Linked DNA regions of Homo sapiens. The protein of the gene in region 1 interacts with the protein of each later gene in a biochemical or structural test. Each region holds a gene or a part of one and is shown on either strand. Other genes may lie near its edges.

Region 1 (8,042 bases):
GTGTCTGTACTTGGTTCCATCCTTTCAACTGTTCACCAGTAATTTGCACAAACTCACAGAAATGTGTAAAAGGGCAGCCAGCATAGGTCCAGAATGATGTAACACAATGGAATTTAAATGCTAAATCCCTCCATTAAAGGCTCACAAAGGCAGTTCCACCAACACCAGTCAAAAAAGTCAAAGATTCATAACAATTTATGTTTTAAAAAAAGGCATAGGTAATGTAAATACAGGTTTAATACAGGCCAACAGCAATATGATTGCACAAAAAACGAATTCAATATTAGACTGCATTTACAAATCGCAAATTGCCAAGAAAGTTACTACTGTCTACTAAAATTAGTACTGATGTCCAGGGTACTCCCTTTCAGCGGCAGCAACAAGACTGAAAACGTTTGATCATTCTCCCAGCAAGCCCCTTCCCCCATAGGAGTCAGAAGACCAGTCACGCATTTGGAAGGGGAAGGAGAGAAGCAGAGAGGAAGGAAGCGAGACTGCTGTCTCCAAATGTCTGAAGGCGGTCCCAGGGAACAGAAAGACAATCAAGGGAGGCAAACTTCAGTTCAATACAAGAAAAGACATGCCAGAGATCAGGGTTGCTCATAAACGGACTGGCCCACCAGAAAGGCAGTGAGCACTTCACCAGTAAAGGCCAGACCCGCTGAGGAAACAGGGACAGTAGGTTTCCCTGCTCAGGAGTAGGTTTCCCTGCCCAGCCGCCCCTACACTGGACTTTCACAGGCAAGACTGCCTCCCTAACTCCCACACCTCCCCATTCTCTCAATCAAGGCATTATATGAGAATGCACATTAGTAAGAAATGTTAAGACAAGCACTACTGCTATATATTTTTTTAATTTGCAAATTCTGGTGCTTTAGCAAAGGTCAGAGACACTAACAACTATTAATAACTCATGAACTCTGATAGTTGGACAGCTAACTCACTGGGATACCAGCAACGCTGCTCTCAGATCCAATACTCAGATTATATTCATTCTATGTAGTTTCCCTAAACAATTTTCCTAAACAACGTTCTCAATTTCAGTACATTAATAGATTTCAAACTCAAAATGAGTACGCTTTTCCTGAAATTACTTCACTTCGTAAAGGTTGCAGGCAAGAATTCTTTGCAGGAATTTCTTAAACTCAGAGAATTGATCTTAATTCCTCTACCAAAGCAGAGATTGAGAGGTGTGGAAGGGTGAAAGCAGATTTCTATTTACAGACATCCGTTCTTCTCCATTATTTCCTCACTTTTTGAAACTCACCACTAAGTGACAGTGCAGTGTTCAAACAGATACCTAACATGGTTTAGGTCCCCTTCTAATTCTACCCTCGTCTCAAGATTACAGATTTGAGCAGCTCATTACTCAACTATTCAAACTCTAAAATGATAGCACTGTCATCAAAGGTACTCTTTGAACCTTCGAGAAAGAGTACTCATTCCCTAATGCAAGATACTCGAGGAGGAAGCTGCCTGTCGAGCAATCCAACTTACACTCTAGGGAAAAGACCCAGGCGTCCACGTCTCTGCTCGCTTCCTCACCTGTAGAATATGATTCTGAAACCCACAGTGGTACTGCTGTCAAAGTCGCCCCTTTCAGCCTGCACAATACACTCCATATCACCTGCTCTAAGGGCCAGGCTTTACCTTTCTGAACGTGGATGATGTCCGGGAAGTTAGCCAGATGCCCCTGATACAGCGCTAATAGGTCCATGACGGGATCCAGGTCCTGCCTGGGCTGCTCCGCGAAGAGCTCGCCAATGGCGTCATAGGCATCTCCGGTGAAGGCGATAGCCTGGTTCAGGCCCACCGAGAAGGCCTGCTGGTCCAGCTCAAAGGCCTGGCTGAGGCCGCGGAAGGACTGGCCCACCTTCTGATACTCCTTTTTGAAGCCGGTCACCTGCTTGCGCGCGAACTCGTTGGCCGTGTGGTTGAGCTGCAGCGCGCTGTCGTCCATCTTCTTGGTGAAGCACTTGAAGCCGTCGATCTTGCTCTCCACCTCCTGCAGGTCAAGGGCAGCGGCGGGGGGCGTGCTAAGGGTCAGGAAGAAGTTGGCGCCCACCATCTCGTCCTTCTCGGCCTTCCTCTTGCCCTGCTTCCAGGCTTTCTCGTCGGTGCTGCTGGGGCACGTCAGGAAGTGCTGGAAGACGTCGCACTGCGCCAGCACTGGGTGGCTGGCCATGTGGTTCATCCACCAGATCAGGCCCTTCCTGCGCTTAGAGATGAAGTCCTCCTCGAAGCGGCCGGTGGCCTGCTTCTCGGGCAGGTGGGGCACGGAGATGACCGGGAACTTCTCCGCCAGGCGCGCGTACAGCCAGTCGAAGTGCTTGTAGCGCCGATGCACCGGCACCTGCGTGTGCGTGGGCACCAGCTTGTAGGAGATGTAGCTCTTCATGCCCTTGAACTTGGTCTGCTTGGTGGGGTCGTCGATGGTGCACTGGAACGGGTAGGGGTTCTCCTGCCACTCGGGGCCATAGGGCCCCAGCACCACGCACAGCTTGTCCCCGTCCTTCACGAAGCCTGACGCCTCCCCCAGCACGAAGGCCTCCCCGCCGGACTTGACGAAGGTGGAGAAGCGATTGAGGTTGCGGCTCACGGTGGCCGAGCTCTTGGGCCCCGACGGGTGGTGCTGCGGGGGGACCGAGCCGCCGCGGGAACCCAGGGACAGGTCGGAGCGCGTGGACAGGCGGTAGCGGCCGGCTGCGCCCACACCCGCCGAAGACGAGCCGTCGAGGTCCGGGTATGCTCCGCTGCCCAGAGCGCCCGGCTCGTCCGCCACCGTGGAGCTGTCGTCCCACTCGTCGTCCCAGTCATCATCGCTGCCTTGGCTGGCCTGGTAGCCGCCGTAGAGCTGCTGAGGCGACGGCTGCAGGGCGCCCCCGCCGTACGGGAAGCCCGCGCCGGGCGGCTGGAAGGTGCTCGGAGGCGGCGCCTGCTGTGGCTGCAGCAGCGCCTGGAAGGCGTCAGGCGGCGGCTTGAAGGAGGCGGGGGGCGCGACAGGCAGGGGCTCGAAGCCCCCGGGGGGCACATTGGCGTAGCGGGCCGGGGCGCCCGGGCCGCCGTCTCCCGCCGGGCCAGGCTCGGGGGCGCGGATCACCTGCACATAGGAGGCCGGGAAGAGGCCGCGGTCGCCGCGGCTGTTGACCCCCTCGAGCCAGCCCTCGATGTCCTGCTCGCTGCACAGGCTCAGCACCTCGTGCTCTCGCAGCGAGATCTCTCCTGGGTTCTCCGACCTGAAGTCGTACAGCGCCCGGGCGCGCAGCGCCATGGTCCCGGCGCCCCGACTGGCGGTCCCGACTCCCGGCGTCCCGAGCCGAGGCCCACCTGAGGGGCCCGCGGTACTGCTCGAGCCCTGGCGCGCGGACTGGAGCCCCGAAGGCGGCAAACCCACGCTGCCCGGACCAGCCGGTCGCGCCCTCCGCGCGGCTCCGCTCGCAGCGCCTCCACTTCGCAGCGCCGACTGCCGCGCTGGGCCGCCGCAGCCGCCGCCGGTCGGGGGCGGGGCCCGCGGCCTCCCACGTCTCCAGCTGCGCTAATCCACGGCCGAGAGCCCCTTGCCAGGCGAGAGCAAGCGATGGCCGAGCCGCCGAGCCCACCGCCCGCGTCGGCTTTGCGGCGGCCACTGCCCTCTAGTGGCCGGTGCCGCGAAGCCGGGCGCCGTAGTGAGCGCGGCTGAAGGAGGTTTCTACTCCGAAGTGAATTATCTGAGATTTCTTTAGGCTTTTAAGTTAAACATTCTCTAGAAAGTAAGTTAGCATTTGCATGCCTGATAAACGTTCCCACTCTGAGCGCTCAGTGAATGCTCCTAGAATGGCAACCCAGTCATGTAATAAAGCATTTTGCAATGCGAATTAGTGATTGCACTAAGAAAACAGGATGCCTCTGCGGAGGAGCTGTTCACCTACAGAGCAGGCTCCCTTCCCTCTTCTGCTCAAGGAGAGGAGATTGGCAAGAACAAAGTAAGGGCCAGGGAAGGTGCTGTGATTGACAAAATTAGAAGCAAAGGATCATGTAGAGAGGGAGGAGCTGGAGAGTTTCCAGTACAATAAATGCTCACACATTTATTACATGCATGTGTCGCCTATCCTCCCATAGATATATGTAGTGCGGTGAATGAGAGCTCAAACTTCGGAGCCAGGCTTCTGAATTTCAATCTGTGTTCTGACACTACCTAGCTGTATGACCTGGAACAAGGCACTTATATCGTACCTACCTCCGGGGGTTGTTGTGGGGATTCCATCATAAAGTAATCCCTATTTTACAGATGAGGAAAGTGAAACAATATCTGGCAGGGTAAGCAGATTTGAAGGGTTTGTTGCTGCTTTTGCTGCTGTTACTGTTATTTGGGGGAAGCAAAATCCCTGGCCTCTTTCACAAAGGGAATAGGGGTACTAAACTAACAATTGCAGGGTACATGCACCAGGAAGCGTCCCAATGTTCACATTGCCACTCCTAGTAAGAGGTCAGTGACCATCCATCCATCTGTTGTCTCTATGTCTCACTATATTTATATTATTTTTAAGATAAATAGAACAAAAATCACTTCCTGAAATAATCAGCTCCAATCTATCGTTGCCTTGTTTCCTATCTTCCTTTCCTTCAGTGTATAATTTGCCCAAAGCTTTTTCTTCTCTTAATCCCCTCTTATTAAGTCTAGCCTAATTATTCCTTTGAAGACACTTCTAATTGAGGTTCTGCATTCATGTGTCATTAATTTCAGCCTGTCCTCTGACCCTTTTCAAGGAAACCTGGGAAACGGGCCAGAAGAGTGTACAATTATTCTAAGGGCTGTGGTATTGTAAGCATCTTGCACAAAAACACAAACCCACTATACCAGAATCACTCCCACAGTGTTTATCCTAATGCAAAACCTTAATTCAATTCAGTAAGCATATTCTAAATTACATTTTTAGCTGAAAATTCTGGGTTTTGACTATTCTCACAGTAAGCAACAGGGATCATTGAATTTCAATGCCAACATTTCATGTGGTCAGAAACATGAAGTCCACATTAACTAAACCTCTAGAATATGACTCATTTTACTTCTGAAAAGCTAACCTAGAATATGTAAGATAAATAAATTTAGTTTCGCCCCTTCTGTTCGTTTAGTAGTTACTTTTTAGATTAGAGTTAAGTACAGTAACTTTGGGCTTATTTCAGGTGTGAAAATTCCAGGAGTTTAAGGTGATGATTTTTTACAGACTGGTTGAGCTACTCTGTAGAAATGGTGGTTGAGGAATTATTGGGTGTCCAAGGTTGTTTGTAGCACTGGGGCATGGGCGTCTGCAGGTGCTTACTTTGTAGGAGTCCAGTGGGAGGCCTCTGTGCTTGCCGCGCATCAGGCTTCCAGAAGGATGAGGACAGGCTGTCATGATGTTTGGCCCTATGGCCACTAGTGGCAGGAAAACCCCTACCTCTAGAGGGTCTTAGATATGTAGAAAATTGTGCTCCAGTATTAACAACCTATAACTGTTCACTCAGGGAAATAGATACAGTAACACATTTTGTAAAGATTTCTCTAGAAAATGGAGCATATTATTCACAGTTTAGTTTACACAATCATTATAACCACCCATATGCTTCTGTAAAGTTTTTAGGGGACACTAAATGACCCCAAACAATTGCATTTTCTTACTTCCTCCCTTGGCCTGAGAGGCCTTAGATAGCCTGGCCCTTGGCTATCTTTCCAGCCCCCTTTTCCACTGAAAGAAGCCACAGTGGTTGCTTTGCTATTTTTGGGACAAGTCAAGCACGTTTCTTGCTGAAGTTTTTGCCTTCGCTTTTCTCTCTCCCTGGAGCCCTCTTCCCCGGGAGATCCACCATGCCACATCATCGCTTCATTCGGTCAGAACCATGGGGCTTTCCATCCCTCCTTTCTTCTCCTTCCTTGGAGATACCGGAAGACAGAGGGAGCCTGGGTCCCTGAGTCACCGACCCCAATCATACTTTGTGAGAGAAAAATCCTTTGTCCGACTAAGCCACTGAAATTTCAGAGATTGCTGAGGCAGCTGGTACTAATTATGCTAATATAATCTCCCTCCCTCCCTCCCATCCCCTGTCCATCCCACAGTCTCACTTTTCTTTGTAGCAACTATGACCTAAGATAAACACGTCTATACATTAACGGCCTCCCCTATTACAACATAAACCTTTTCAGGGCAATGAGGTTTTCTGAGCACTGAGGATATAGCAATGAACAAAACAGACATGTTAGGCAACCAGTTAGTATTTGTTAGATGAATGAAAGAATGTCCACTTACATCCTCCCTAGATGAAGTCAGCTCTCTCCAGTAGCTCTTATTGTGTCTGGGTCAGCTTGCCTGGTGCCCTCTGCCACCCAGCTGTAACTGTTTCTAAGGCAGCTAAGTAACACTCCTCTTTAAATCAACAACGTTAAAGGTAACACAACCACCCAGAACACCACTGCAAATTTTCAGATTGTTAGAAATTTCACTATTACAGAGTGGGTCATTATTAAAATTAACACTATATTTTACTTGAAAACACTCATGTAATGCATCAAGCATTACACAAATATGTACATATGATTTTAGATGCACTTACACCTTTCCTGTGTTATTTCCTGCCGTATTTTCACACCAACTCATCCATGCATGGAGCAGATATTGCCATCCCCACTATCCCAGATCAGGACAGCCAACTGCAGAGAGGGTCGTCTGCTGAGGTCAGGTGACTGAGGAATGACCCAGCAGCTACTCAGCTGTCCTGAGAACTTCGGTTCACTGTGTCACAGGTCTGCACTCTGCTGGCGCCTCAAAACTACTACTATTATTAAACAGCATCCAGGCCCAGCACAGTGGCTCACACCTACATATATATGTTTTATGTATATAAAAATTTATATATACAATTTTTTATTATTTATATATTATATATTATATATATTTTATATATAATATATAAAAATTTATATATACTATATTAAAATTTCTATATAATATATAAATTTATATATATCATATATATTTATATAATATATAAATTTATACATATGATATATATATTTATATATTATATAAATATATATATCATATATATTTATATATTATATAAATTTATATATATCATATATATTTATATATTATATAAATTTATATATATCATATATATTTATATATTATATAAATTTATATATATCATATATATTTATATATTATATAAATTTATATATATCATATATATTTATATATTATATAAATTTATATATATCATATATATTTATATATTATATAAATTTATATATATCATATATATTTATATATTATATAAATTTATATATATCATATATATTTATATATTATATAAATTTATATATATCATATATATTTATATATTATATAAATTTATATATATCATATATATTTATATATTATATATTTATATATTATATAAATTTATATATATCATATATATTTATATATTATATATTTATATATTATATAAATTTATATAATATAAAAGTTTATATATTATATATAAATATATATTATATATAAATTTATATATTATATAAAAATATATAATATATATAAATTTATATATTATATATAAATATATAATATATAAATTTATATATTATATATAAATATATATTATATATAAATTTATATATAAATAAAAATTATATAGGTATACATTTTATACATATGCGTGTATATATGTGTACACACACATGCGTGTGTATATGTGTGTACACACACATATGCACACACGTATATGTAATATTGTTTTATACTTTATATATTTTATATATTATAAATAAAGTAAAATGAAGAGCAACAGCCATTTACTAGAAGGTTTGTAGCTAGGCTTAATAGAAAGCCTGGCTCAAGCCTGCACTCCCAGCACTTTGGGAGGCCAAGGTGAGTGAATCACTTGAGGTCAAGAGTTCGAGAACAGCCTGGCCAACATGGCAAAACCCTGCCTCTACTAAAAATACAAAAAAATTAGCCATGCATGGTGGCACACACCTGTAGTCCCAGCTACTCAGGAGGCTGAGGCACGAGGATCGCTTGAAC
Region 2 (7,405 bases), on another chromosome or scaffold:
GTGCTTAGCATGGGAGCAGCAGTGGGAGCAGGAGTGGGAGGGGCCGGAGCCCAGGGGGAGCAGGGGAGGTGGTGAGGAAGAGCAGCTGGGTCAGATTCTACCTGAGGAGACACGTCCAGGCTGTGGAGGGAGACAAAACCGTGAGCCTCCTGGTTAATGCCAAGACTGGAAAGGCCCCTGAGTCCCACGCCCCACCCCCTGCTTCGGGACCAGGGGCCATAACACACACATAGGCTGGATTTACCTACTTGGGCCAGGGTACAGAGGGAAGACCCCAACATGTAACATTATCAAGTGCCTCCCAAGGAGAAATATGCCAGGCAAAGCTATTTTAATGCTCACTCCAACCCCAGAGAGAAATCATCTCATCTGATAGGCAGGATCCGATCCAAACCTAACCAAGTGTTCTTTCCTCTATCCCATGCTGAAGCTTCTAAGGTTCTACTCAACAAGGAATTTACATCTGGGAAAACTAATCTGAAAGCGCCTTACATCCCTTTTTTTTTTTTTTTTTTTGAGATAGAGTCTCTTGCCCAGGCTGGAGTGCAGTGGCGCGATCTTGGCTCACTGCAACTTCTGCCTCCCAGGCTCAAGCCATTCTTGTGCCTCAGTGTGTGCCACCACACCTGAATAATTTTTGTATTTTTAGGAGAGATGAGGTTTCACCATGTTGGCCAGGCTGGTCTCGAACTCCTGGCCTCGTGATCTGCCCACCTGGCCTCCCAAAGTTCTGGGATTACAAACATGAGCCACTAAGCCTGGCCCCTTTTAGGACTAAAAGCAAAGAAAACACCAGCTGGCATGGGGGGATAAAGAGACCAGAGAAAGGCCAGGCCTAGGTATCTGGCTGGACAAAACCAGAACTTATAGGACCTAGCAGGGCACCTAGAATTCTGACACTTGAAACAGCCTGGGTTCTATTGATCCCTTGCAGAAGCAGAAGTAATGACGGGCTGTCATTGGGTGTGACAAGGTGTCTTGTTTCTTTGAGGGGCAGCCTAACTGGCTAAGGAATATAAGCCACCTGTGGAGAACGTCAACCAAAAGGTGCCCTGATGGTCCAGCCTTTGTCTGCCAAGGCTGGCAGTGTGACAGCAGCAGCAACTCTGGATGTCACCAGGGGCTTCTCAGGGACTCTGGGGACGGGGACAGGGCAGGTGCTCTTAGGACACTGGAGAACAGGTTCTGGCCTTCATCTGTCCAGGACAGGGTCCTTTCTGGGGGAAACGCCCCCTGCACTGGTGCTTATCCACAGAGTGAGGCCGACTCCAGAGATGCGGGCAGGGGCGTGCTCTCAAACTAGAGCTTCTCACTTCCCTAGGACCCAGACAGAAGGCCAGAAAAAATGGCTGCCTTGCCACTGAGCCACCGTCAGAGGCAGACCTCGGTGGCCTCACCCTCTGCCTTCTAAGCAGTCTCCCTCCTCATGGCTGGTCTCCCAGGCCTGGCTCTAAGCTTCCAGGACCCCTGTTCCTTGGCTCCTGCCTGTCCAGGTGGAAATATCCTGGGGAAACCCCTACACATCCGACTTTTCAAGCCAACCAGCTTCTTGCACAGGAAATGTAGACAGTGAGTCCTGAAGGGGCAGAAGCCGGGCTTTGGCCAGCCAGCCCATAAGGAGTGTGGCTTGGGGTAGGAAGGGCACCTGTGGAAAGAGCATGAGCTGTCTGGAGCTTGCCCGGATTCTCCCAGGAACCCAGGGCCCAAAGAGGGCAGACCCACACAGAGGTGGACTGAGGCAGGTCAGCTCGGCAGCTACCACCAGGGGCGGACCACAGGAAGGAGTCCAACTAAACAGAGGCACAGGTAGCTCCAAAGATGGTTCTGGGAGAAGGGAGGTCAGCCTCACAGGTCCCAAACCCAGGGATTTCTCGTAAGAATCAGTTTCCCGAGAGTCTCCTGACCCTATTTTTCCCCTTACAATAACTCCCCATCCAAAGGTAAATTCTCAGTCTCATCCCCTCCACCTAAAGATGGAGGGAGAGGGAGGTAAAAATTCCCACCTGTTCCCACCCCACCTGGGCTTCCACTACTACCCTGCTTCTATGGACATGGTGAAGATACCAAAAGAGGAAGAATCGTGGGCCCAGAGCCTCAACCCCAGCAGATGCCCTTTCTCCCTTCATTCCAGACAAGCCCCAGGCCAAGGCACACATGCCTGCTGTGGGGACCAAGGGGAGTGAGAAGCAACATACACCACCACCAGGTCAAGAGCCTGACCTCAGCCCACTTGCCATTAGTGCATCCATACCACACCCAGCCCAACCCTGTCTACAGGACCCGGGCCCCCAGGAACAGGGCTAGAGCACTCTGAGCTGCTTCTCTCCCCAGCCCCCTTTATGACAATAGGCCACAGTGGTCTGAAGGAAGAGAGTCCCATCAACATTAAAAGCACTACGCTTAACTCTGCCCCCTCAGCCCTAACCTGGCCTGCACTCACCCTTGCAGTCTTTCAGCAACCTGGCTGGCAGTCAGAACTGCAGGGACAAGAGCGGCAGGGGAGTAGACTGGGAGCCTCAGGTTAGGCTCGGCAACCTCCCTCTCCCGGCCAGCTCCCCAGAGGTACACACAAACCTGTTTGTATAGAATCAGCAAAGGGCTCTCCCTGGAGGAAGGGACTCCAAGCACCAGGCCTGGCAGGCTTTACAGAGCCAGCAGTACTTCTGAGGGCATCTGTCCATCCTCCTATCTGGTAACACATCCCTCCTTCATGCCTTCCTCTTCCTTGCTCCACACCAAGTGCACATTCTGAAGGTTCTCACTTCAAAACATCTCCCTCCCACTCCACCTGGCCCAGGTCAGGAACATATTCCCACGTATGCTTGTCTTTGCAGGTCATGCTCTGAGAACAAATAAACACCTCTGCATCCTAGAACCTACTGTGCCGGCCTGGCACACTCTCCCCACCCCCAAGCGGTGGGGGCAGCAATATATGCTGATTTGTCTTCTCTTTTAGGATCAAATGCTGGGAAGGAAGTCAGAAGTCCAGATGTCTCTGCCCCTTCAACCTGAGGGAATAAAACTTTACTGCCTGCAGGAAGCTCTGAACAATTGGTTGAACCTGCCACTCAACACAGGAACCACCTGTTCACCCTGACAGCCCCTCTTCTTAAACACTACACCACAGGGCTACCTCTGTAGCTGAAGGCCAGGTGTCACTAGCAGACAACTCTTCCTTGGGCTGAAAAGAGCTCTGTGTCCTTGTTATTTCCACACACTGGTCCCAGAGATGGCAAGTGAATCTGCACAAGCTCTCTACCAGGCAATCCCCCAAAGGCCGAAGCCAGCCTTGGAGGCACGTTCATCTCTAGCAACACTGCCCTTCAGCCTTCCATCCTGAGGCACGACCTCCTGACCCTCCTGAGATGGGCCCAACGTGCAGGAAACATGTCCAAGAGACGGGTACATCCTCTCCCATCACCTGGGCACAATGAGGTGACAGGGGCCTTGTAAGCTGTAAGTAGGGAGAACGTATCATTTATCTTCCAAACCAGAACACTGTTAATACAGTAACCATGACAAGAGCATGGTTGTGAGGAGCACATGAGGAGAGCAGGACGTGAGGCTGCACTAACTCCAAGCCACTGGGAGCACATTATAGTTACTCATTTACACCACCAAGAATGCAGCCAAGCTCCTTCCGCTGCCACAGCACATTCCAGGCCCACAGGGAGGGACCTTGTTGCCTACCACACCTGGTGCAGGGAGGCACTGCAGAGACTGCCAGAGGCCACCATCATGATACACTCATCTCTATGTTGTACCACACTTATTCCCAACTTTAAAAGTTTTTGTAATCAACATTTGATCCCCTTCTGTGCATAGAGTCCTATGGTTAGTGTGGGGGGCGGGGAACAAGGGAACACAAGGATGACCCGGGATAGACACAAAGACAATCCACTTTGGCCCTGGCGGGTTTAAAATGCGTGGTCTTGCCTGTCCTCAAACACACGTGAAGTAGCCTGTGCTGCAGCTCAGTGTGAATGGCTCATAACAGGGCAGGGGAATGAGGCTAAGTCCTGTGGCCAAGACAAGCTTGGTCTCAACTACCTACTCCCTGCTCCAGCACACACTGGTAGGGGCCCAGTGTGACTGCCATGGCCCCCAGCAGACAAAGGCCACATCAGAGGAACAGCAGGACCCTCTTCTCAGCCCTGTATAGCCTCATTTGTTCCTTCCCCACGGCAGCAGCCTTTCTCTGGATACCATACTCAACACGTTCAGCCCCGGGCCTCTCTGTGGGGCATCAGTGCCACATGGGAGCACTAGAGGGCGCCGCTGTTCTTCCTAGTGAGGAACATCCCACAATCTGCAATGGTAGCCCCAAGGCAGAGGCCCCCATTCTCTGGACCTGGGGACAGGCTCCCCAGGCCCCAGCTGGAGATCCTGCAGCTACATTCAGTCACTCCAGTTCTGGGTCTAACCCACAGCTTCCTGCCATGAGGCAGCCCACCTCTCCTTCTCTCCTCAGAGGCCCTAAGCAAGCCCTCTGGGGAAGCGCCAACAGTCCTTTCTTCCAGGCCAGCCTTCCCCTCCCTGCAAGGCACACAAGGCCAGGATGCTGCTGATTGAGCTCAAAGGCCAGGTGTCACATCTGTCCAGGCCAGGCCATCTTACCCAAAGCACAGCCCCTCCCACCCCATCTGCATGCACGGCCACAGAGCCTGGCCCTGCAGCCGCCACCTGCAAATAGGCCCCATCTTGGGAGGGATGCTGAGTGCCCTCCATCCTGCTAAAGACAAGGCTCAGAATTCAAGTGACAGCAGGACAGAAACCTCAGCTTCCTTATGGCCATCAGTGACCCAAATCCTCCAGATTCCAAGAGGCCATTAGGAGATATGGGGAAGCAGGAGAAAGAGGATGGAGACTGTAAGTGCCCCAGGCCAGTGACAACCCCACAGACTCACAGCCTGTGGGAGTCCAAGCCCAAAGCCTGGGCAGGACTCACCTACAAATGGCCCCAGCATTCACCTTGCCCCAGAAAAGGCCCAGAGACACCGTACGCACAACCACACTGAGCCTGTGCTCTGTGCCCCTTTCAATCCAGGCCCTCAGCTCCTCCCAGCAAATGCCCTGTCCAGATCTCCTGCTACCTCCCTCTACCCTACCACCTCCAAATACCTCTGGCTGGCTGTCACAGGGACACCAGGCTCAGCCTGGCATCTGGGAAAGGCCTGTCCCCTTCTTCCCAATCTTCCCCTAGGCCGCAGATGGCCAGCAGCTCACCTGAGCTCTGGTGAGTAGGGGCGGGGCAGTAGGGACAGGAGCTGCCATACCAAGCAAGGGAGGCAAGGGGTGGCATGCCCCTGAAACTGATCCACCCCCCCATACCCCTATCTATGAGGGTCTAACAGGGATTGTCAGCTGACCATGGCCCAAACCTAGAAAGGCCTGCATGTCTCTCTCCACTCCTCTCAACAGACTCAGAGTGCCACAGGGAAACAAAAAGCCAGGACTACAAGATTCCTCTCCCCTCTGGGCAACAGGTTTAGGGTCCTTCCTCTGCCCTATCTTTTGCCCCCTTGTTACTGTGCTTGTCCTCTAAACCTGTCCAAGCAGCCATGGAGCGGGAAGGGCAGGCTTGTTGAGAGAAACAGTGCTCTCACCACACTGGCCAGGGCTGCCACAGATGCTGCCTATGAGGGCTGGCCCCAGGCCCTTGGGAAGGTGCGACACACACTTCTGTGACCTGTACCTGGAGCCCCTCTCTGGACCCTGCTATACAATTCTGCAGCCTCTCCTGGCTCAGAATTAGGAGGAAGCAAATGGTAGGCATCAGGGTCTCTGCCCAGGGCCTGAAATGGGGGACTCAGTATATTCAAAACAAAACAGCTGCCACCAGCACTTCCCACGGTGCCATACCTCAAGACCAAGAGACATCAGAGAGGGCCAGAGCTCCCAGGGTCTCCAAGGACAGAGATGGGTTACAGATTTCATGGGAGCTGCCCACAGCCTCTTGCCTGGGGAAGCAACTGGCAGGTGAATGGACGGGGGAAGGAGTGGTGGCTTCAGTTATTTGACTCCCGTCTCCCAGAGGGAAGTGATCACAGAGACAGCTGGGGAGAAGTCCTCTAGCTCCAGAGAGGGGAAGGGAAGTCTGAGAGTGCGGTCTCCAGTCCTCATCTCTCTACCAAGGCTTCCTTACCTTGAGGCCAGAGGGCAAGAGGTGGAGGTCAGGAAGCAAAGAATTCACACAAATGGACTTTCCTGCTTCCCTCCAGCTCAGGGGGTGGGCATGCCAACTCATGCAGCAAGGCCTAGGGCTGAGAAGTCGGACCCCTCAATCCATAGGACTCTCAGAGCACTATGCCCTCGTAACTCACCTGTGTCCGTGAGCACAGAACGAACCTTGGCTTAGGGAGACACCCCACTAAACCATGCAAAGCCAGAGCCCCAGCAGCCTGCCTGAGGTCCATATCTACTCCTTCCTCCCTGCCCCAGGGTCCAGGCAGCACACACCCCAGCATCCTCCCCAAGGAGCAAAGTTGGTCTTGCCAACGACTTACCTGGGTTTCTGAGTCGGGTCCTTGGCTTCTCTCAAGCCAAACCAGCTACTCTTGGCCTTTTCCTCCCCACTGGATGAGTGATGTGGGGAGGCCCCCAGGATGGGACCCCCCTTTTCCCCCAGAGAGCTTCGGCGACCCAACTCGCTCCGACTTAGGCCTTGGTGGTGGTGGTGGAAGAGACCCATCCGGGGCTTGCGTTCCTCCTTCCGGGCTCCCTCCTTCTCTGCCACAGCCTCAGAGGAGGCCACTATGGGTGTGGCAACCTGGACTGGCTTGCCCTCTGGTAGCCGGGCCCCCTCCTCCTCTCCAGGGTGGCTGGCCCCAGGGGCCAGGACTTTAGCCTGAGCACTCAGCTCCTCCTGTCCAAGCACTGCCTCTGAGCTGCTGTTGCTACGACTGCCTCTGGGCCAGGTGTCATCTGTGGAACGAGGCCCCTCCTCGGAGAACCGGGAAGAGACAGCTTGCAAGGAGCCAGAGGATGGAAGCGAGCCCGAGATGGAGCTGCGGTGCCGCACAGGGCCCTGGGGCTCCTCATTGTAAATGTGGCTCCCATTGACACAGAGCGAAGAGCGGGAGGCAGCATCCAGGTGGCCCTGAAGGTCCAGAAGGGCCCGAGGAGGAGCCACTCGCATCTGGTTGGCCTCATCGCTGTAGGTCCTCTTATGGGTGAACAGCTTGGGGGACTGTGCAGAGTCCCTGCCTGCAGGGGAAACACACAGAGTTAGCTCGCAGGAAGAGAGGCCCCATTTCCTGGCCCCAGGCCTTCATCACCACCCAAGGGGAGAGCCAGTGCCCCCCTCCCCAGGGCGGCGGCCCTGTGCTTGCTCACCCCCTTCAGTGGACAGCCAGCTGCTACGGCTTGGTGAGCGGGTGAGGAGTTCGGCGCCAGGTCCCTGGTA

What was found. Proteins that work in one complex are often made in the same cells at the same time.
Region 2: the proteins of SNX18 (region 1) and RAB11FIP5 form a complex in vitro, tested with the Homo sapiens proteins (one study listed by IntAct).

Annotation. Positions count from the first base shown.
Region 1 is NC_000005.10:54,513,182-54,521,223, reverse strand, and holds the start of SNX18 (sorting nexin-18), read right to left. Parts: upstream 3,466-8,042; 5' UTR 3,272-3,465; coding exon 1,651-3,271; coding exon of another isoform or gene 1,385-1,650; exon of another isoform or gene 178-1,384; intron 1-177.
Region 2 is NC_000002.12:73,081,544-73,088,948, forward strand, and holds part of RAB11FIP5 (rab11 family-interacting protein 5), read right to left. Parts: coding exon 7,336-7,405; intron 7,207-7,335; coding exon 6,507-7,206; intron 121-6,506; coding exon 1-120. UniProt on the Homo sapiens protein: Rab effector involved in protein trafficking from apical recycling endosomes to the apical plasma membrane. Involved in insulin granule exocytosis. May regulate V-ATPase intracellular transport in response to extracellular acidosis.